Linked DNA regions of Homo sapiens. The protein of the gene in region 1 interacts with the protein of each later gene in a pairwise test. Each region holds a gene or a part of one and is shown in the gene's direction. Other genes may lie near its edges.

Region 1 (3,500 bases):
ATGGGAACTTAGAAACAGGGGAGGGAGAAGGTGGGTTGGTCAGGGTTCAAAGGTCAACTGCGGGTTAGAAGTGGTGAAAGCAGAGGCAGAATCTGGAGGCCTGCATCCTGCAAGTCAGACTTTGGCTTTGAATAGCAGCGGCAGGAGGTGGCCGGCAGAGAGTCTGCTCGGTGCTGAACTGGACTTGGCTGCCTCGCTGCATTCCCGACTGCCCTTGTCAGGCCCTTCCCAGCCACACAAAGGTCCCAAAGATAGACGCGTTCAGCAAAAGACTTGTGAAAACAGCTGAAATGCAGAGTGAAATGGCAAAAAAACAGAAGGGGGAGAGGGCAGCTCCAAAGAGCAGAATAAGGGGAAAGCCCAACCAAGTCAGCAAATATCCGGGCAAAGCAGAAACAAAGAGGAAGAGGGAAATGGATTCTGAGGTGAAAGTGAAGGACACCATTAGACGCTGTACATTTGAAAATAACTAAAAGAGTATAATTGGATTGTTTGTGACATAAAGGAAAAATGCCTTAGGGAGTGGATACCTCATTCTCCATGATGTGATTATTATGCATTGCATGTCTGCATCCAAACATCTCATGTGCTCCATAAACACATACACCCCCTATGTACCCACAAAAATTAAAAATTAAAAACCAGTCAATCAATTAATTCTTCCTCCCCTGCCGCAAAAAGATACCATTAGATGGAGACACATTTTAAAAGATGTTTCCCAAGTATATTTTATTTTTTCAAATTATATATATGTGTATATATATACATATATACACATATATGTGTATATATACATATATATGTGTATATATACATATATATATATATATATATATTTTTTTTTTTTTTTTTTTTTTTTTTTAAAGTAGAAACAGTTTCACCATGTTGGCCAGGCTGGTCTCGAACTCCTGGCCTCAGGTGACCCACCCACCTCAGCCTCTCAAAGTGCTGGGATTACAGGTGTGAGCCACTGCACCTGGCCTAAATTTTTTTTTAAGTGTTTAAAAGAATTTTTAATCAGAAAATGCTTAAAGGGTATAAAGTTTTTATTTATTTATTTATTTATTTATTTTTATTTTAAGATAGAGTTTTGCTCTTGTTGTTGCCCAGGCTAGAGTACAGTGGTGTGATCTCTGCTCACTGCAACCTCCGCCTCTCAGGTTCAAGCGGTTCTCCTGCCTCACTCTGCCGAATAGCTGGAATTATAGTCAGGCACCACCATGCCTGGCTAATTTTGTATTTTAAGTAGAGGCAGGGTTTCACTATGCTGGCCAGGCTGTTTTCGAACTCCTGACCTCAGGTGATCCGCACATCGCAGCCTTCCAATATGCTGGGATTACAGGCATGAGCCACTGCTCCTGGCCTAAAGTGTATAAAGTTTTAAAGCATGATTTAGACCTGTATACAAGTATAATCTCAACTATGAAAATATATAACATGTAAACAGAAAAATTTGGAATAAAATATCCAAATCTATTTTAAATGAAAGAAGTCTTAGGAGACTTCTTAAAGTTATATATTTCCCATGATCTCAGCTTCCCTTTTCTTTCCTTTGAAAGTAGCTGACTGCCGTATGCTAACCCGCTAGGCTTTATTTTTTCATGCATAGTCACCAATCTTCCAGGTTTCACATATTTTTGAATACATGCACTGCGACACAGGACCAGAGATGTAAAGAAGGGCTCAGATGGTCGGCTTTTTTGTTGTTGTTGCCGTATGCTATATCTTGATCAGTTCTTGGGAATAAGCACCAACGTCTCTATTGCTCTTCAGTATGGATGACAAAAACCTCCCTCCCATCACTTTTCCATCCCCAATTCTTGACCCATTTCACACAAGGAATCTTATGGACACAGATAGAAAATAGAAGGAACAAACCATCCCCATTTTTGAGAATAGAGTCCACAGACTTCCTCGTGGGCTGTTTCTTCTTCCTCCTTTGTTTCCTGAGAGGGGTGTTCTCTTCTGCAGTCAGTACACAGGCCCCCGCCTTCCTGGCGTGCTCGTAAATTGTGAAGGTCTTTCTTGGATCTTTAAGGAGTTGGAAGGGATCTCCTCTGAGGGGCAGTCCCATCTTGATTGGTGGTGGCCCCAGGAGCCTCCCCAGCGGGCTCTGGTGTGGATGCAGGTGTTATGCGGGAGACGGTCTTCCCCTGCAGGGCTGAGGCACATGTCTGGGTCTGAGCTGACCGAGCTGCTGGACCAGGTGGAGGGTGCCATCCGTGACTTCTCGGAGGAGCTGGTGCAGCAGCTGGCCCGCCGGGACGAGCTGGAGTTTGAGAAGGAAGTGAAGAACTCCTTTATCACGGTGCTTATTGAGGTTCAGAACAAGCAGAAGGAGCAGCGAGAACTGATGAAAAAGAGGCGGAAAGAGAAAGGGCTGAGCCTGCAGAGCAGCCGGATAGAGAAGGGAAACCAGATGCCTCTCAAGGTAGGTGAACAACCAGGTGGAAGACTGGGTGCCTCCAACCTCCAACCCTGCCCGTTTCAGTGCCCTACCAACCCTGCAGGGGACTCATCAACGTTTACCGAGCAGTGGTGGTGAGCAGCACACTGTGACAGACAGGGGGTCAGAAAGGGAGAAGATATCACCTATCTCCTCCACTCCCCCAAAGGGCTCACAGTCTAACCCAGGAAGACAGTGTGTACATTAGGAAATAATTGAATTTGGCTTGTGTTCTCTGTAGGCAAGACCTTAAAGAAAGTGGAGTGAGGGTATTTCGTGTTGGGAGTCTTGAGATGGGCCTCAGAATTCTGGGTCCAAATCCCTCCTTGTGTCCCAGGTTCCAGTCCTGACTGGTCTCTTTAGGGCGTGCTAAGGTGTTTCAGTGATTGAAAATGATCAGGTGCCTTATTATTATTGTTATTATTTTTTGAGACAGAGTCTCACTCTTTTGCCCAGGCTGGAGTGCAATGGTACCATCTCGGCTCACTGCAACCTCCGCCTCCTGGGCTCAAGCAATTCTCCTGTCTCAGCCTCCCTAGTAGCTGGGATTACAGGTTCATGCCACCACTCCTGGATTATTTTTGTATTTTTAGTAGAGATGGGGTTTCACCATGTTGGCCAGGCTGGTCTCAAACTCCTGATCTCAGGTGATTTGCCCATCTTGGCCTCCCAAAGTGTTGGGATTACGGGCATGAGCCACCGTGCCTGGCCCCAGATGCCTTATTGTTCTATTGTTCTATTTTTGGGTTTAACCCAAACCCCTGGTTCTCATGGTTCATTTTTTTTTTCTTTTTTTTTTTTTTGGTGAGATGGAGTCTCACTCTGTTGCCCAGGCTGGAGTGCAGTGGTGCGATCTCGGTTCACTGCAATCTCTGCTTCCCGGGTTCAAGCGATTCTCCTGTCTCAACCTCCTGAGTCGCCGGGATTACAGGTTCACACCACCACGCCTGGCTAATTTTTGTATTTTTAGTAGAGACGGAGTTTCACCATGTTGGTCAGGCTGGTCTCAAACTCCTCACCTCGTGATCTCCCCGCCTCGGCCTCCCAAAGTGCT
Region 2 (3,500 bases), on another chromosome or scaffold:
TTACGTGCGAGACGATCGGCTTGGCATGGGAACGTCAGCTCCCAGAGACCCAGTGGGTCAGGCAGGGCCCTTCCTCCAAGGCCATTCCCTTGGGAATCTTCCCTGAGAAAAAGGGAGAAAAGCCTCAGGGTAAGGTGGCCAGAGGACAGACTGAGCCCACAGGGCTGCTGACTCCCCCGCCTCCCTGAGGACCAAGATGACCCCTGACTTTCTGGGGAGGAATCAGCTTGGTCCCTTTCTGAGAACACCATCCAGAAAGGACCAGAAGGTCAGGCTGAGGCTGGTGATAATGAACATAATTCCCCAAGCACCTGCTGAGCATCAGGCTCCACGCTGGTGCTCTCTGCATAACACTCTTTATAGTAATGATCCCCCAGGAAGGCAGTGTTAGGGCCATTTTACAGGTGAGGAAACTGAGGCTTAGAGAGGTAAACCAGCTTGCCTGCAGTCCCACAGCTGCTAAGTGGAGGAGTTGGAGATCATGGGATCCCCAAGCCTACTTTCTTTTTTTACAGTTTTTTTTAATTTTTAGTTTTTGAGGCAGGGTCTTGCTCTCTCACCCAGGCTGGAGTGCAAGGGGCATGATCAAGCTCACTGCAACCTCGAACTCCTGGGCTCCAGCGATCCTCCCACCTCAGCCTTCCCAGTAGCTATGACTGCAGGTGTGCGCCACCACACCAGCTAATTTTAAATTTTTCTGTAGAGACAGGGGTCTTGCCATGTTGATCAGACTAGTCTCAAATTCCTGGCCTCAAAGTGATCCTCCCACTTCAGCCTCTTGAAAGCGCTGGAGTTACAGGCATGAGCCACCATGCCTGGCCCCAAGACTGCTTTCTTACTGCCAGCATGCTTTCACTGTGTGTAGCTGCCACTTGAATTTCTAGGAACCAAGAAGGGATAGGAAAAGACTCCCGTATTTTTTCTCACCTTCAGGCCTTTGCACAAAAGCTGTTCCTCTGCCTGGAGCACTGTTTTCATTTGATGTGTACAATCAGGTGTTTACGTACGGGAGCCTTTCTCTGTCTCCACCCAGGGTAAGGTCTAGGCCGGGCGTGGTGGCTCACGCCTATAATCCCAGCACTTTGGGAGGCCAAGGCAGGTAGATCATGAGGTCAGGAGTTCAAGACCAGCCTGGCCAAGATAGTGAAACCCTGTCTCTACTAAAACTACAAAAATTAGCTGTGCGCGGTGGCAGACGCCTGTAATCCCAGCTACTCGGGAGGCTGAGGTCGGAGAATCGCTTGAACCTGGGTGGCGGAGGTTGCGGTGAGCTGAGAGCATGCCACTGTACTCCAGCCTGGGCGACAGAGTGAACTCCATCTCACAAAAAACAAAAACAAGAAAAAACAAACTCAAACCTTTCCTCTTAACCTTGTCTCTCTCTCTTTTTTTTTTTTTTTGAGATGAATTTTCACTCTTGTTGCCCAAGCTGGAGTGCAGTGGCGCGATCTCAGCTCACTGAAACCTCTGCCTCCTGGGTTCAAGCAATTCTCCTGCCTCAGCCTCGTGAGTAGCTGGGATTACAGGTGCCCGCCACCATGCTCGGCTAATTTTTGTATTTTTAGTAGAGACAGGGTTTCACCATGTCGGCCAGGCTGGTCTGAAACTCCTGACCTTAAGTGATCCGCCTGCCTCTGCCTCCCAAAGTGCTGGGATTACAGGTGTGAGCCACCGCGCACAGCGTTAACCCTGTCTCTTTATGAAACGAATGCTCATTATTGTTCAGGGGTTGGCTTACCTGCTGCTCCCATCCAGAAAGCCATCTCTCCATCCGACCTTTAAGGGTTAAACACCCATCCTCAGCGCTCCTGGAGCCCGCAATAGCAGGCATCACACCATGTTATACTTGTCAACTCTGTCACCTGCCACCCCTTCGAAACTTGGAGCTCCCTAGAGCAGAAAGAACGTGTCTTGTTCACCTTTGTATGCACTTGGTGGTTCAGTGAGAGCATAAGAGGCTCACGTTAAAGGGGCACAGTCCCTGGGGACTTTAAAACTCAAGGTGTATTGTTCAGGAACAGGCAGCCACTGGAAAACCCAGTGCCACCCTCACCAGCTGTCCTCGGCTGCCAACCCTCCCAGCATCTCCCCAGCCCCACCAAAAATATGCCTGAGCAGCAGCTTGCCACACAGGGCATCATCAGGTCTGCGTGCCCACCTTCCTTCTCCCTGCCTGTTAGAGTCTCATTGATTGATTTAAACCGGAAACGAGTATTCCCAGGAATCTTTTCTGAGCCAAGAAGGCTCACATCTAGATTGTTAAGATTCATATGAAAAGCCCGAGCGAAGGCGTCCCGGGGGTGTGATTGAGCTCACCTTCCCCACGCACCCGTGGTGACAGCAGCCAAGTGGTGTCTGGTGTGTGGACCGAGGTACAAAGTGGGACCTGACGGAGAGAAGGGCTTCTTGGGAATTATTCACCTGAGTCAGTTGTCCTTCACCACCTTGAGCTGGCCCCACTTCCTGTCCCCCCCATCCGTGTCTGCTCCTGGAGTTGGAAAGGAAATAATAAGACAGAGGATTCTGGGAAAGGTGGAGGGTCTGTTTTTTCCTTCAGGCTCCAAAACAGCTCTTCAGGCATGTCTATGTTGATGCCAAGAAGCTGCCAGAAGGAAAAGGAAAAAAAAAAAAAAAATCTCCAGACCTAGAGTTCAGACCTCATGATGGTAAGAGCTAATGTTTCTCGGGCGCGTGGCATCTGCCACACGTTCAGCTGAGCCAGGCAGCGTATCCGCAGTAGCTGATGGAATCCTCCCAGGAACACGGTTGGTTTCCCATTTTACAGATGCAGACATTGAGGCTCAAGAGAGGAGGTGCCTGCCCAAGGCCACAGGCATCATAATGAGAAGTAGAGTCGCAGGCTGGTGCGGTGGCTCATGCTTGTAATCCCAGCACTTTGGGAGGCCAAGGCAGGGGGTTCGCCTGAGCCCAGGAGTTGGTGCCACTGCACTCCAGCTTGGGTGACAGTGCGAGACTGTCTCCAAAGAAAAAAAGAGAGTCGGATTCCATTCCTGGTCTAATCTCATTTGGAGAAGGAGCTAGAGATGGCAGGGAGGACTGGCGTAGCCAAGCGTGGCTGGTGGGGGTGGCGCTGGTTTCTCCACTGCGTTCTCGCCCCTGGGTAATACTTCTTGGTTCTAAAGTCTTTAAGTGGCCTCAGACGGTGGCCTCGGCTCATTCACCAATTGCCATATTCTGCTACCAGGGTGGACCAGATGCGGTCCCTGCCCTCCAGAAGCTCAGGGGTTCCAGGGGGACAGGGGAGCACCCCAACAACTGTAGCATAGCGGGAGGAAGGGTCTGATGGGCCAGGGTGGACCAGCCAGCTCCACACTGTTCTGTCGTCCGCCAAAGCTTGGTAAGCTGAACAGCCAACCAGCCAGTCCCCCGTGCCTTTTCTCTTCCTCTGGGCTAGGTTGTGGCTTTTCCCCTGGCATCTTCAGGGAGTCCATGAACCCCATGAAATAGGATGTGGAATTGTCTGAGTGCCTCTGGGGAGG
Region 3 (3,500 bases), on another chromosome or scaffold:
CTGTCACCCAGGCTGGAGTGCTGTGGCGCAATCCTCCCACCTCAGACTCCTGCGTAGCTGGGACCACAGGCATGCACCACGGCACCTGGCTAATCTTCCTGTTTTTTATAGAGATGGGGTCTTTGCCATGTTGCCCAGGCTGGTCTTGACTTCCTGGGCTCTAGTGATCCACCTGCCTTGGCCTCCACAGGGCTAGGACTGCAGCCGTGCACCGCCTCTGTGAATGTTCTGAACGACGGGGCATTTGTCAGCTTTGCGTCCACCCCAAGACTTGTTTTGAAATGGTGAGGTTGAAACTCACAGGTGTCCCTTAAATGTGATGTGCGGTAACTTGAGTTGTTGAGGTTTTGCTTGTGAATTTCTCATTCTTCTTTCCCTTTTTCGTTCCAGAGCGCCGCCCTGTGCTGGGCTGCCGGGAGCTCGTCTTCAGGAACCTCTCCAAGATCCTCCCTGCCCTGTGCCACGACATCACCGACTGGGTGGTGGGGACCCGAGTGAAGTCGGCACAGCTGCTCCCAGTGCTGCTGCTGCATGCCGAGGACCACGCCACGCAGCACCTGGAGGTCGTCCTCCGGACCCTGTTCCAGGCCTGCACCGACGAGGAGGCAGCCGTGGTCCAAAGTGTAAGTGGCCGTATTCCAGTCGTGGTCGCGGAGCTGTAACTCGAGCTTAAGATCCCGCCTCTGTGGTGTGCGGGGCCCGAGGCTGTACTGTAGCCAAGACAGCGTTCCCCTCACCCCCGGGCCGCAGGCCCTCCCCACACCCAGCCCCTGGGAACAACTGATCTCCTTTCTGTGCCCGTAGGTAACAGCGTGTTGAGGGTGAACCCTTCATGCTCATTTTCAAGCACACTCGGGGGTGCAGTGCCAGGTGCATGTTGTGTAGACGTGTTGTGTAGACGTGCCGTGCACCAGACAGACAGGGCCCGGGCTGCTGACACAGGACCGAGATGCCCAGCGTTCAGCATTGACATCTGGACTGTCCTGAGGGCCCTTCCAGGCCTCGCAGGGGCTGTGGGAGCACCCAGACGGGGGATGATGGCACAGCTTCGGGTGTCCTGCGAGTGGTGTCCCTGGTGCAGTCCTCTTTCTCACTCCCTGTCCACACTCGGCTGCTGGTTATCGCCTCGTCACCACTGGGTACGCACGAGGGAGTCCCATGCTCAGGCCTCTCCTCCTCACTAGGCCGGGCCACGCCCTGCGCTGACAGTCACCACCATGAGGACTTCACACCCACCTCACAAGGATGCTTCCTAGTGCTCAGGAGAACAACTAAAGCTTTGACTTGAGATTTCAGTTGAAAATATCCTCATCTTGAACCTTAAATTCCATTGCAAGGTAGCCTGGCCAGCAGCTTTTACTTCTAGTGGTCCAGGTCACTGTTACTAGCCCAGCGTAGTGGCGTGCACCTGTGGTTCCAGCTCCCGGGAGGCTGAGGTGGGAGGATCGCTTGAGCCCGGGAGTTTGAGGCCTCAGTGAGCTATGATTGCGCCACTACTCTCCAGCCTGGGCGACGGAATGAGACGCTGTCTCAGATAAAACAAAAAAATCTAAATCATTGTGACTGATTTAAAGTAAATGTTCCAGGTTCCATGTTATTTACATGTCATGTTTCTGCTTTTCAAAAACTACCGTGAATTTAAAATTGTCTGTAGTTCTCTGTGGAACCTACAGGAGAGCAAGAGACACGGGGGTGAGGCTGAGAGGACGAGAGACGTGTGTGGGATCCGCTGTGGAATCCCACGGTGCAGAGGGGCTGGTGTGTGTGTGATCCACTGTGGAATCCCACAGTGCAGAGGGGCTGGTGTGTGTGATCCGGTGTGAAATCCCACGGTGCAGAGGGGCTGGTGTATGTGTGATCCGCTGTGGAATCCCACGGTGCAGAGGGGCTGGTGTGTGTGTGATCCACTGTGGAATCCCATGGTGCAGAGGGGCTGGTGTGTGTGTGATCCGCTGTGGAATCCCACGGTGCAGAGGGGCTGGTGTGTGTGTGATCCGCTGTGGAATCCCATGGTGCAGAGGGGCTGGTGTGTGGTGTCCACTGTGGAATCCCATGGTGCAGAGGGGCTGGTGTGTGTGTGATCCGCTGTGGAATCCCACAGTGCAGAGGGGCTGGTGTGTGTGTGATCCGCTGTGGAATCCCACGGTGCAGAGGGGCTGGTGTGTGGTGTCCACTGTGGAATCCCACGGTGCAGAGGGGCTGGTGAGTGTGTGATCCACTGTGGGCTTCCACGGTACAGAGGGGCTGGTGTGTATTGATCAGCTTAGTGATGGGAAGGTTGGGTCACTGGTGTCCGATGAGGGGTGTGTGGTGAACCCCACAGCTGGGACACAGCATCCTTTGGGCCAGACTTCACTGCCTGGGAGGCGTGTCCGGCTCGCTGGCCTCAGGGACGTTCTGAGACCACACCCGGACCCTTGTACCTTTCCTGAGGGCTCTGAGCATGTGCCAAGGACTCACTCTGCCTAACACGGGGCTCTGTCTGGTGCACGGCTGTGTCTGGGAGGCCACGGCGCCGAGAGCAGGAGCCCGGCTGAGACCCTCGGGTTTGGCTCTGAGTTTTCTCATGTTTCTTTCTCGCAGTGTACCAGATCCGCAGAGCTCGTCGGGACGTTTGTCAGCCCTGAGGTGTTTCTGAAGCTGATCTTATCGACGCTGAAGAAGACGCCCTCTGCCTCCGGCCTCCTGGTGCTGGCCTCCGCCATGCGGGGTTGCCCCCGAGAAGCCCTCCAGCCGCACCTGGCAGCCATCGCCACAGAGCTGGCACAGGCCCACATCTGCCAGGCATCTGAAAACGTAAGAGCACTTGGGAGATGCGGGAGTGGAGAGGAGGAGCCTCCCCTGCCCGGCCGTCAGCCATCGTAATGACATGTCTGTGGGTTGCCCTGTGCCGCCAGGCTGGGCTGTCGGAAGCACCCAGCGACGTGTCTGTGGGTCCGCCCCGTGCCGCCAGGCCGGGCCATCGGAAACACCTGCAGTAACCGGAGTGCCCTCGCTGATAGCCCTTGTTCCGGGGCCTCGTCCTGGGCTGTGCAGAGCTCCAGCCCCAGCCCCAGCCCCAGCTGCAGGCGGCCGCTCACGTTTACATTCGTTGCTGCCCCTTTCTTGGCCACACACCACAGTTCACGTGTTTGATGACTCAGGAGGCGTCCATGGCCGGGACCCTCTGGCCCATGCTGCTGGGGGTAGATGTGGGGTCCACGTCATCCCACCCCTGAGGAGCGTGGTCGCACGTCCACCATCCCATCCAGTCCCCAGGGTACCTGCACAGATCGCACGTCCTCAGGGGGCACTGACAGCCTGTTCCCCATCAGCCCTGCCTGGCGTTCCGATCTGTGCTTCTCACAGCCCAGCTGAGGATTTGCCAGAGACATTTGTTTAATTTTAAATTGAGCAGCAAATCCTTGAGCTCAGAAGCTGGAACAGCCTGGGTAGTTGGGCTCAATTGTTTGGAATAATCCATAGTTGTATTCCATGGAAGAAGAGGTGATGGCTTTGCT
Region 4 (2,315 bases), on another chromosome or scaffold:
GCCAGCCTGGCGGCTTTAGTCCCGGGCAGAACCAAGTCACTCCACAGGATCATGAGAAGGTAAGCAACACTGTCTGACTGCCTCCTTATGCACAATTCTAGCCTTTTTGATTCCTCTTTTCACAGTTACCATGTGACGATCCTGGGTCTTCAAAGTCCCTTTGGAGGTGATGTTTATTCTAACTTAGAACTCTTTTATGATCTTGTTACCTGAAAATTTGTGAGTCTGGTCCTGAAGTTCCTAATGGATGTGAAGTTCTTAAGTGGATGTAAATGGCAGCTTATTTTATATTTCACACTCATCTGCCAATAGCAGGTTTTTCTTGTTCAGGCCAGATTGACCTGAAAATCCACACCCTTTTTCCTTCCCTTTCTACTTTATCCCTAAAAACAATAGTAGATTCCCCATGATTATATCTTTCTGTTTTTATATTTGACCATTGTGGGGAGCTTATGTCTGATGGAAAGGCTAAAATTTGTGAAAAAGAGAGACTTTCAAAACAGGATTAAAACTTGAAGGATTTCCAGGGCTCACAGATACCATCTTAGTCTCCAGGAACTTTGAGTTCATGAAGTTGTCTGTTTTGAATCGTCTAATCTTAGGTATTTTAATTTATACTTGTTCTTTTCATTGTACCTTTTCTCACCAGTTTTTTTTTATTTTTTATTTTTTTTGGAGGGGGGCTGTTGGTTTTTTTCTGTGTGAAATGTTCTTCCTTTTTCCATTTTGCTTCATATCCCACTACAGTAGCTTTTTGGACAGAAGCTGGTGGTGGGTTTTTTGTTTTGTTTTGTATTTTTTAGCTGCCATCATTAAAACTCACTACCTTTTTTTTTTCCTCTGCACAGGCTGCTTTGATTATGCAGGTTCTACAACTGACTGCAGACCAGATTGCCATGTTGCCTCCTGAGCAAAGGCAGAGTATCCTGATTTTAAAGGAACAAATACAGAAATCCACTGGAGCACCTTGATAGGTGAGCAAACTTAATCCCCATCTGAGTAGGACTAGCTCCTTGTCTATTCTGGGTATATACTTTTAACCTTAACCAACAAGATTGTTCTCTCAGCGGCCCTCAATCCACTCAGCTAGACTCTTCTTTACCCTTCAGTAGGTCAGCTCCTGTAGGGATAGAGTAAGGCTATACAATGTTTGTTCAGTTGTTGAATTGCTTATAATCTTTCCTAATGACAAAGGTAATGTATGATCAGTTTAACAAAAGTAATCATATACAGAAATGTAGAAGGTGAAAGGTAAAAAGCCCTGTTTCCTCAATCTCATTCCCCAGACAAAACCTCTAAATATAGTTTGGTGTGTATCCTTCTACAATCAATTGTATTATTTTATTCCAAACTGTCCTGTCAAAATGGAAAAATACAAAGCATTTCAATAAAATGTGTAAATATTTTGTTTCTTGTATTTATTTTATAGGGAATATTTTGATGTTGAACTATAGTAGCACATAATTTAAGGTAGTAAATGTCCGTCATCACCATCAGTTTCTATATATTTTGGAGATCGCTGTACCCTGCTACCCTTATTTTTCTTGCTCATCATTTAGGCAGAAAGAATCCAGGGGCCAAGCACAGTGGCTGAGCCCTGTAATCTCAGCTTTGGCAGGCTGAGGTGGAAGGATTACTTGAGACCAGGAGTTCAAGACCAGCCTAAGCAACATAGTGAGACCCCATCTTTACAAAAATTTTTTAAAAAATTAGCCAGGCATGGTGAGATGCGCCTATAGTTCCAGCTACTTGTGAGGCCGAGGTGGGAGGACTGGTTGAGTCCAGGAGGTCAGGGCTGCAGTAAGCCATGATTATGCCACTGCACTCTAGCCTGGGTCACAGAGTGAGACTCTGTGTCAAAAAAAAAAAAAAAAAAGGATCCAGGTAACCTGCTTCATAAATAATCATGTGACAACTTGATTACACATACATGTATCAGTGTTTCTTTTTTAAAAAAAATTTCCCCAGCATTTTGTATTTTATAAACAGTTCTTTTTTCTAAAAACAGTTTAAAATTCATGTTGCCCCACTATCAGGTAGGACAGCACAATTTAAATTTCTACTTTTTACCCCATCCATATTATAATTCCTATTCTTATGTTATATAATAGTGAACTCATTTAACTATTAATAATTACCACTCTTACAAAATATATCATTTTAATCCATACTTGTGATGTCTTTAAACATTTAAACTGCGACTATGCATCATATATGTATTTAGACCTTAAATGAATTAATGAGAAGCTATCATAGATAGAAGGCTCAGTAGACTTTTGGTACCTTAACGTTTTATTCCACAAACCCCACATATT
Region 5 (2,628 bases), on another chromosome or scaffold:
GGTAAATTTTGCTGCTTGTCAAGGGCACACACATTGTTTCATTACCAACAAATACTGATCCTTCAGATCTAAATTTTGGGTTTGGTTTAACCTATTTAATGTAACAATGCTTCTTTTATTTTTATTTACTTATATATTTTAATTTTTTACTCTTCCTCTTAATTATTTACAGTGCTGCTTTTAAATAATATTTTGCATTCAGAAGATAGAGAAATGTTTGAGTCTTTCAGTTTCTAAGTCTGAAAGTTTGAGGCTTGTTCAGAATAGTGATAAGAAAAGAACACATTCAACCAAATGTTACTCTTCCTTTGTATGCTGTAAAGTATAGACAGAGCTCAAATATTAACTTTTTAAGAGATGAGACATTTCTGCAGTACTGTGATATTTGGCCTTTATTTAAGTGGTCTTATTTAAGGTCAACTCTAGTAAATCAAGATGTAAAGTTTTGAAAACTGAAGATGGAATTGCTTTCATTTCCTAATAAGAGATGCTTTATAAAATTAAGGTTGTTTCATCAATATTAGATATGTTCAGAGAAGTAACCTTTTGCCTGAAACTTATTTTAATGGCAGTCTCCATTTATCCACAGGTGGAGGAAACCTCAAGAGAAAGGGAGGAAAGGCTGAGAGGATGGGAGGCTTTCCTCAATGCTCCTGAGGCCAACAGAGGCCTTAGGCGTTCAGATTCTGTCTCTGCTTCCGAAAGGGCAGGGCCTTCTAGAGCAAGGCATTTTTCAGAGCACCCCAGCACATCTAAAATGAATGCTCAAGAAACTGCAACTGGAATGGCGTTTGAAGAACCTATAGATGAGAAGAAGTTTGAAAAGACAGAAGATGGGGGAGAATTTGAAGAAGGTGCTTCTGAAAACAATGCTAAGGAAAGTAGCCCCGAAAAAGAGGCTGAAGAAGGCTGCCCTGAAAAAGAATCTGAAGAGGGCTGCCCCAAAAGAGGGTTTGAAGGCAGCTGCTCCCAAAAAGAGTCTGAAGAAGGCAATCCCGTAAGAGGATCTGAAGAGGATAGTCCTAAAAAAGAGTCTAAAAAGAAGACACTCAAAAATGATTGTGAAGAGAATGGCCTTGCAAAGGAATCTGAAGATGACCTCAACAAGGAGTCTGAAGAGGAGGTTGGCCCCACAAAAGAGTCCGAAGAAGATGACTCAGAGAAAGAGTCTGATGAAGACTGCTCTGAAAAACAGTCTGAAGATGGCTCCGAAAGAGAATTTGAAGAAAATGGTCTCGAGAAAGATTTGGACGAGGAAGGTTCTGAAAAGGAGCTTCATGAAAATGTTCTTGACAAAGAGTTAGAAGAAAATGACTCTGAAAACTCCGAATTTGAAGATGACGGCTCTGAAAAAGTGTTAGATGAGGAAGGCTCTGAGAGAGAGTTTGACGAAGATTCAGATGAAAAGGAAGAAGAGGAGGATACATATGAAAAAGTATTTGATGATGAGTCTGATGAGAAAGAGGATGAAGAATATGCAGATGAAAAGGGGCTTGAAGCTGCTGATAAAAAGGCGGAAGAAGGTGATGCAGATGAAAAGCTGTTTGAAGAGTCAGATGACAAGGAAGATGAAGATGCAGATGGAAAGGAAGTTGAAGATGCTGACGAAAAGTTGTTCGAAGATGATGATTCCAATGAGAAGTTGTTTGATGAGGAGGAAGATTCCAGTGAGAAGTTGTTTGACGATTCTGATGAGAGGGGGACTTTGGGTGGTTTTGGGAGTGTTGAAGAAGGGCCCCTATCCACTGGCAGCAGCTTTATTCTCAGTAGCGATGATGATGACGATGATATTTAATCCCTTAAACTTGCTTTTTAGGGAGAGTCCTCCATCTACATTTGCCTGTGCTTCAGGGTAATTACTAGTAGTGTTACATGAACATGTGCATAGTGGTAGGATGCCATCAGATTAAAGCATTGAAGTGTTTCATTGTTACCTGTACCTAATGGTTTTAAATATATGTTAATTGATTGTTTAGTTAAAATGTCATAGTTACAATGCAAGTAAACTGGATACTTGTTCTTTTGTCAGATTTGTTAAATGCATGCAGAATAATATTTTTAAGAGTATTGATTGAAGTTTGTGATATTCATCAATAAAAATGAGTTGATAATATGCAGAAACTGAAAATTGGACTTGAGTTAAATTGCATTTTAAATTCTTGATATTGCTTTATTTATACTGAAGGTTGGCTTTTCTGAGGACTTGAAGAATCTCTTTGGAGTCTCCTTGCTTCCCGCTGGTATTAGCACGTATGTCTCCATTTCCTCTCTATAAACCAGAACATGTTCCTAAACTCAGAAAACAACCCTCTGGATTTTTTTTTTCTGCCCAGTCCTTGCAAATTAACTCTTGTTTGTTTTCTACCCTCTTTCCATTAAAATTGACTCTCAGATGTGCAAAAGTGAACTTCCTGCAGTCTACAGCTCCCATTATTATTAAAAATCTAAAGAAACAGATTAGAATTCTACCTTGTACTGTTAGCGTCTCTGGGCCCCTTTAGAAGTTAATTCAAATTAGAGGACCTCTTCCCAGAAAAAAATGTACACACTACACTACACAACTTGTGTACTGTTTGGGGAGGTTCATGGATTCCCTGAAGTTGAAGAACTTCATGCATGCTTCAGTTG
Region 6 (3,500 bases), on another chromosome or scaffold:
CAGAACTTTTTCATCATCCCAAACAGAAACTCTGAACCCATTGAACAGTAACTCCCCATATTCCCTCCTTCCAGCTCTTAGTAACCACTATTCTACTCTTTATGAATTTGCCTATTATATATATCGATGATGCAGCTATTTTTTATTATTATTATTTTGAGACGGAGTTTCACTCTTGTTGCCCAAGCTGGAGTGCAATGGTGTGATTTCGGCTCATTGCAACCTCCACCTTCTGGGTTCAAGCGATTCTCCTGCCTCAGCCTCCCCAGTAGCTGGGATTACAGGCACACGCCACCACACTCGACTAATTTTTTGTATTTTTAGTAGAAACAGGGTTTCACCATGTTGGCCAGGCTGGTCTCAAACTCCTGACCTCAGGTGATCCGCCCGCCTTGGCCTCCCAAAGTGCTGGGATTACAGGCGTGAGCCACTGCACCTGGCCAATGCAGCTATATTTAACCCTTTTCCTGTCTGTCCTGTGAATACTCGCCAGTAGTGCTTGGCTGCAGTGTTTACCTTGAGATAACTTTGCCACAAAATACCTAGCTTTTATTATTATTTTTGCATTGCTGTGGCATATTGACTTTGGAAACAGAAGACATCATTCTATTTATAGCATTCTGGTTTTAATAGTGATATTTTCATTTACAAACTATAGTAATTGTTAATCACTGAAAATGTCAAATCGTAGAAAACATAGCAGTCCTGCACATGGTATTGTCATTCTCGAACAGTTGTTGCCCGAGGATTCGTTTGTTGAATCTGATTTTTTTTTTCGAAATAGACGAATCTGATGATTCAAACAATTCTGATGTTAGTTCTATTTAGAAATAACTCCAAGAACAGTTTTTATATTTTATTTTCACCTTGAAAGTCAGATTTGCTTCGGCCTCAAAGAGCGTGTTTATGTAAAATTAAATGAGTCCTTGCAGCAAGCTGTACTTTTTTTTTCTCAATGGGTAAAGGGTTAAAAGTATGTTTTCTTCCATTTTGAGAGATACTGTTATTATTGGGGTGTATACGAGTATGTGGCTATTTGCTATATGAAGGTGATTTTATTCTGTCTCCTTGAGTTGTGAAATAGGAGTTTTATACTATATTTATCATGTTAATCCTTTACACCCTAACAGTATAGTAAGCATGCTTTTTAAGTACTTGTCTTACTTGTAACAGTAGCCTATACTCAGCTTTCTGCATAACTGCTTTTGTTATTTCCATATCATTCACTAAGTTTATTGAGCAGCTACTATATACTTAGTATTGTGGATCTCAGAGTGTGGTTTGTGGACCTCTGGAAGTCCCTGAGCCCCTCTTACAGGCATTTATGAGGTTTTCCTTTTTCTAGTTTGATGTCAGTGTGAGGCTGTGTTTTTTTTTTTTTTTTCATGTACTTTTGCTTAAAGAACATATTGCAACACACTGAATGCCAGAAAAGATAAATGAGTATCTGGTTGTCATTTGTTAAGCCAGGTATTGAGATTTGCAAAAATGTAAAAGGGGCTACTCTTTTTTATAAAAGTTTAAATTTTGGATCATATAGCTGTTTCTCTTAAAAAATATTTACATAAACATAAAATGACTTATTTTAAAATGAATTCATAAATATTTTCACGAGTCTTGGTTTTAATTGTAATTTTTAAAAATTTATTTTATTTTTTATATAGAGACAGGATCTCACTGTGTTGCCCAGGCTGGTCTCAAACTCCTGGCCTCAAGTGATGCTCCTCACCCTCCCAAAGTGCTGAGATTATAGATATGAGCCACTGTACCCAGCCTCTGCATAATTCTTAAGAGTTTAGGCTGGGTGTGGTGGCTCATGCCTGTAATCCCAGCACTTTGGGAGGCCAAGGCCAGGAGGATCACTTGTGGTCAGGAGTTTGAGACCAGCCTGACCAACATGGCGAAACTCCATCTCTACTAAAAATACAAAAATTAGCCAGGCACAGTGGCACGTGCCTGTAATCCCAGCTACTCAGGAAGCTGAAGTGGGAGAATTGCTTGAACCGAGAGGCGGAGGTTGCAGTGAGCTGAGATTGTGCCACTGTACTCCAGCCAGGGTGACAGAGCGAGACTGTCTGAAAAAAAAAAAAAAAAAAGTTTAAAAGGGTCCTGATACAAATAATTGAGATTCTATCTCTGACTTAGTGCCTAGCTAATCGACTTCATTTTGCGACGTTTCCCACCAGTAGTCACCTATTATTGTTTACTTTAATTTTTTGCATAGGATTTACTTTTCTTTCAGGTCATTTATTCACCTACCAATTTTTTGTTATTCACCAATAATGAGTGTGGGGGAGGTTAGATGTACATATCAGGTTCTTTTTATAATATATAGGACCTGTGTATTTTTAAACTGTAGTATACAATTCAGGGTGCTATTTCACTTGTTGACAGAAAAACATTTAATAATCTTAGGAGATTGGACAGAGTCACAGTCTGTAGTTGATAAAAAGAGGACCAGGAACAGAAGCTCATATGTAGCTTTCAAATGACTGTTTTTGTCTTCAGAAGGGTTTCCAAATTCATACTAGTAAATCGTAAATACTTTTTTATATTCAGAAAATAAATTATATGAACTATAAATATTTGTAAAACTTTGTCATTTTATGTATTTTATAATAGGTTTATTTGTGAAGGCTATAATTACGTAAATCAAGTGCAGCTTTTTATTTTTCTAAAAGATTTACTCATTTCTGCTTCATGAGATGCATTTCATGAAATAGCCAGATTCTGTGAACTGTCTGTTATTTACATAACATTTACTACTTAATTATCTCTTATGTGCCAGCAATGATGTTGAATTTTTTTTTTTTTTTTTTTATTTTAGATTCAGAGGGCACATAGGCTTATTTGTTACATGGGTATTGCATGAGTAATGGTGGAGATTGGGCTTCTAGTGTACCCATCACCGTGATATTGAACACAGTGCCCAGTAGATAATTTTTAAACCTTCAGTCCTCTCCCATCCTACCCCTTTTTGGAGTTCCCAGTGTCTGTTATTTCCATCTTAATGTCCTTGTGTACCCACTTGTAAGTGAGAACATGCGATATATGATTTTCTGCCTCTGAGTTCACTTAGGATAATGGCCTCCAGCTCCATTCATGTTGCTACAAAAGACATGATTTCATTATTTTTTAACATTTCATTTGTATTCCACAGTGTATATATACACCCCATTTTCTTTGTCTGATCATCTGTTGGTAGACACTTAGGTGGGTTCCATGACTTTGCTATCATGAATAGTGCTGCGATCAATATACAAGTGCAGGTGTCTTTTTAATATAATGCTTTTTTTTCCTTTGGGTATGAATTGTGTTTTCAACTATGTGTGAAAAGGAAAGAAATAAGATTGTGGCCAGTGGTCTCTATTTTATTTTATTTTTTGTAGAGGTGGGGTTTTGCTATGTTGCCTAAACTGTTCTTACCTGGCCTCAAGCAATCCTAGTGCCCAGCCTTCCAAAGTGTTGGGATTACAGATGTGAACCACCACACCTGGCCC
Region 7 (3,500 bases), on another chromosome or scaffold:
GTAGCTCAGTTGTCATGTACACTGGATTTTTTTTTGACCACTCGTACATGTACATATAAACAGAAACCACATGGAAAAGGTACATTGGTTATTATAGGTTTAGACTGCTTCCTACTTTCCAGGGGTATCATAAAATAAAGCTGTGGGTCTTGAATATCATCTCTTAGTAGTCTATATATGAAAGCCTGTGGATGATGTAACTCTTCAGATCCTCATGAGTACATGAGTGTTTTTAAATTGTCTTTTGTGGTTTTGTTTTTTAGATAGTAGTAACACTAAAAAAATGTAATGGCCTTGGGTGAGCATGAAGTCACAGTGATGAGATTTTGCTTTTGCACCTTTCAGCTTACAGAATCAAGTGATTACTTTTAAGAAAAAAATTCTAATTTCTAAAATTGGCTAGTCACTGAAACCTTGTATATTTTCAAAGAAAAATAGAAAAAATTTGAGAGTGTAGAACAAACTGGCCAATACAACTGGAACATTTCTATTGTTAGAGCAGCAAAACCATTAAAAAGTTAAATAATGTCTATATGAGTTATAAAAATCAACAAAATAGGAAATGTGGTCTAAAATGTGATTATTTTTTTCCTTTCCTTCAAGTTCTTATTCCCTGATGCTGTTTCTGAGAAACCATTAGATGGAACTACTTCAACAGATAATAATAATCCTCCATCAGAGAGTGAAGACTATGTAAGTTGATGTGGAGTTCAATGTTAAAATGTTTTAAATGCACTGAATTTCTAGAGGTTCTATATATTTCTAGTTTAATAGCTTACTATATTTTTATTTTAAAAATCACCTTGGGAATTTTGGATGGCAGATCGTGGTTTCCACTTAGATAACTAGCACAGATACATATTTTGGGTAGCAAGAATTTTTCTGGAAACAATGAAAAAATAGCACAAATATACTCTACACAGCTGTAGGATTTCCCTCATTGTAGAGTTTTGGTGAAATCATTAAATTTGTGTTTCTCAGCAGATTCTTTTTGATATTTTAAAACTAGTTAGTGAATGGACAACTCTTTAATGAAGTAAAATGTGTAAAATTAGGTAAAATTTTCATGGTCTCTTTGTCTAGTCTTTGAAAAATTAAGAAGTTGAAGAATTTAAATGACAAGTGTAGATATATATCAACCTTTACAGTAGTTATTGTTGAGAAGTAGATTTGATGAGGTGAGAGAAAAAAGCAAAGGCTTTTTACATTTTCAGTTTAGATAGTTATGATTTTTGTTTTTTCAGACGTGCTCATTTTTGTAATTAAAAGATTTTTAAAACAACACATGAAATTTGGAATACTTCCTAAATATTCCACAGAAGAAATTGAAAGCTGTAACTTTAGCTTCATTAAACTATAGCTTTATCTTTTTTAATCTTAGTAGAAATCTTGAAAATGTGGGACTTCCTAAGAATAGTTTATGCAGTAGTGTATTAGACATTTGATAATGCCTAGTTTAGGTGGGATAGGTTAATTTTACAATTAAAATCTCTCCCTACGACCTTTTCAGTTATATGTGTAAAATATTTTGGTAACAAGTTTGCTTTGTTTCTATTTTGTTAAATTTAGAATCTCTACAATCAGTTCAAGTCTGCACCATCTGACAGTTTAACATACAAACTGGCTTTGTGTCTCTGTATGATCAATTTTTACCATGGAGGGTTGAAAGGAGTGGCACACCTCTGGCAGGAATTTGTTCTTGAAATGCGTTTCCGATGGGAAAACAACTTTCTGATTCCAGGGTAATAATTTCAATTTTCAATTGTTTGGATACGATTTTGTTTGTTAGCAGACATTTGACTTTTGACCTATTTTTTCCCCCTTCTAGGAAGTCTGCCCTAAGAAAGTGGCAAGAAGCTTAGACATGATTTATGTTCAGAGGTGTTCACTGCAGCAAATTTATTAATATAATAGAAAAAAAGGCAAAACCTAAATATCAAACATAAAAGAATAGTTAAATAAATTATACTGTATCTCTACAATAGAAAATTAGATTGATTACAGTTTTTCCCCCAATAATCTTTAATAACAGATGTTCATATTGTTTCTAATAAAGTAGAATATTTTAATGCATATACAAAGTACTTTTAATTATGTTGCTATATTTGTACAGGAAAAATATTATAAATACTGTGAAATGCTATCAGTTTTTCCCAGTGTGAAATTATACTTTTATTTTGTTCTTTATACTTTTATGCATTTTCAAAGTCTTTTGTAATAAACCTGTTTTTTGTAATTGACATTTTACTTAATCAAACAGAACATTTTCATTAGCACATAGGTTGATATTGCATAGTTTAGTGCTCATCTACCCATGCTATGATAGGAGAATCATGATTTTGAGCAATATAAAATGATTACTGATCCAAAAACATTTATATCATTTGCCAATCTCTGCTTAGCTGGATTCTCTCTTGGTTTTAGACAGTCCGCTCTGGAACATTTTACAGACCCAGAAGCATGTTGAATATGAGGGAGTGCCTCTGGCTGATTGCTGGGAACCTAGTAGTCTAGAGGAACCTAGAACTAGAGACAGTCCAAGGTCCTATTGAAATACAGGTGGAGATCTTGGTTTTTATAGTGAGAATCCACTGTAAGAATTTAGTACTGAATACACAAACTGATTTATTTTGTATGGTGTGAAATACTGTATGCTAGTACTTCCTGGAGTGGGTTCAGGGGCTTTTTCTCATTTTGAGTTTTTGTTAGCCTGAAAACTATCACTAATTTGCTGTTATGTTTTGAAATATCTATTATATTTGCTATTGGTGATTTGTGGACAAGGAGTATAAAATAAATTTTCATCTTTTAATTCTATGTGCTCCCCCTCTGGAATTCACTTACCTTACCTGTGGAAATCTAGTTTTGATTTCTTATCAATATAGCTAAAAATTATGGTAGTATAGAAAATAATCATATCTGAAGCAATTTTACTAAAACTAAGCTTTCTTTTCTCCTTACTTTATTTGATAGATTAGCAAGTGGACCCCCAGATCTGAGGTGTTGTTTACTGCATCAGAAACTACAGGTAAAGATTTCTCAATGACATGGATAAATGTGGTCTTGATTTAATCAGATTATTCTAATACTAAATGTAATAATGGGTTACATGCTGTTCTCATGGTGCTGCTGTAGGTTGCCTATAGTCAGTAGTCACTGCAATTCACAAGGTCCTGAGAAGTGGAGAGTGAAAATTAAATATTCAAGCAGTAGGTAGATTTTTATTTTTCTGTAACTAATTCAACTATAAATGTTATTTCTCTTTTCTTAAGATGTTAAATTGTTGTATTGAAAGAAAGAAGGCACGTGATGAGGGGAAAAAGACAAGTGCTTCAGATGTCACTAATATATATCCAGGGGATGCTGGAAAAGCAGGAGACCAGTTGGTGCCAGATAATCTAAAAGAAACAGATAAGGAAAAGGGAGAGGTAGGAAAATCTTGGGATTCCTGGAGTGACAGCGAAGAAGAATTTTTTGAATGCCTAAGTGATACTGAAGAA

What was found.
Region 2: the proteins of FEZ1 (region 1) and TESC interact in a two-hybrid assay, tested with the Homo sapiens proteins (one large-scale study listed by IntAct).
Region 3: the proteins of FEZ1 (region 1) and DNAAF5 interact in a two-hybrid assay, tested with the Homo sapiens proteins (one large-scale study listed by BioGRID and IntAct).
Region 4: the proteins of FEZ1 (region 1) and CSTF2 interact in a two-hybrid assay, tested with the Homo sapiens proteins (one large-scale study listed by BioGRID and IntAct).
Region 5: the proteins of FEZ1 (region 1) and HTATSF1 interact in a two-hybrid assay, tested with the Homo sapiens proteins (one large-scale study listed by BioGRID and IntAct).
Region 6: the proteins of FEZ1 (region 1) and PPP4R3B interact in a two-hybrid assay, tested with the Homo sapiens proteins (one large-scale study listed by BioGRID and IntAct).
Region 7: the proteins of FEZ1 (region 1) and RAB3GAP1 interact in a two-hybrid assay, tested with the Homo sapiens proteins (one study listed by BioGRID).

The regions. Positions count from the first base shown.
Region 1 is NC_000011.10:125,454,766-125,458,265, reverse strand, and holds part of FEZ1 (fasciculation and elongation protein zeta-1), read left to right. Parts: intron 1-2,159; coding exon 2,160-2,431; intron 2,432-3,500. UniProt on the Homo sapiens protein: May be involved in axonal outgrowth as component of the network of molecules that regulate cellular morphology and axon guidance machinery.
Region 2 is NC_000012.12:117,092,917-117,096,416, reverse strand, and holds part of TESC (calcineurin B homologous protein 3), read left to right. Parts: intron 1-2,728; exon of another isoform or gene 2,729-2,743; coding exon of another isoform or gene 2,744-2,765; intron 2,766-3,500. UniProt on the Homo sapiens protein: Functions as an integral cofactor in cell pH regulation by controlling plasma membrane-type Na(+)/H(+) exchange activity. Promotes the maturation, transport, cell surface stability and exchange activity of SLC9A1/NHE1 at the plasma membrane.
Region 3 is NC_000007.14:754,199-757,698, forward strand, and holds part of DNAAF5 (dynein axonemal assembly factor 5), read left to right. Parts: intron 1-390; coding exon 391-623; intron 624-2,583; coding exon 2,584-2,796; intron 2,797-3,500. UniProt on the Homo sapiens protein: Cytoplasmic protein involved in the delivery of the dynein machinery to the motile cilium.
Region 4 is NC_000023.11:100,837,391-100,839,705, forward strand, and holds part of CSTF2 (cleavage stimulation factor subunit 2), read left to right. Parts: coding exon 1-59; intron 60-848; coding exon 849-971; 3' UTR 972-974; intron 975-2,315. UniProt on the Homo sapiens protein: One of the multiple factors required for polyadenylation and 3'-end cleavage of mammalian pre-mRNAs. This subunit is directly involved in the binding to pre-mRNAs.
Region 5 is NC_000023.11:136,510,219-136,512,846, forward strand, and holds the end of HTATSF1 (17S U2 SnRNP complex component HTATSF1), read left to right. Parts: coding exon 1-1; intron 2-589; coding exon 590-1,795; 3' UTR 1,796-2,128; downstream 2,129-2,628. UniProt on the Homo sapiens protein: Component of the 17S U2 SnRNP complex of the spliceosome, a large ribonucleoprotein complex that removes introns from transcribed pre-mRNAs.
Region 6 is NC_000002.12:55,593,623-55,597,122, reverse strand, and holds part of PPP4R3B (serine/threonine-protein phosphatase 4 regulatory subunit 3B), read left to right. Parts: intron 1-3,500. UniProt on the Homo sapiens protein: Regulatory subunit of serine/threonine-protein phosphatase 4 (PP4). May regulate the activity of PPP4C at centrosomal microtubule organizing centers.
Region 7 is NC_000002.12:135,132,292-135,135,791, forward strand, and holds part of RAB3GAP1 (rab3 GTPase-activating protein catalytic subunit), read left to right. Parts: intron 1-603; coding exon 604-693; intron 694-1,569; coding exon 1,570-1,742; intron 1,743-2,973; coding exon 2,974-3,028; intron 3,029-3,272; coding exon 3,273-3,500. UniProt on the Homo sapiens protein: Catalytic subunit of the Rab3 GTPase-activating (Rab3GAP) complex composed of RAB3GAP1 and RAB3GAP2, which has GTPase-activating protein (GAP) activity towards various Rab3 subfamily members (RAB3A, RAB3B, RAB3C and RAB3D), RAB5A and RAB43, and guanine nucleotide exchange factor (GEF) activity towards RAB18.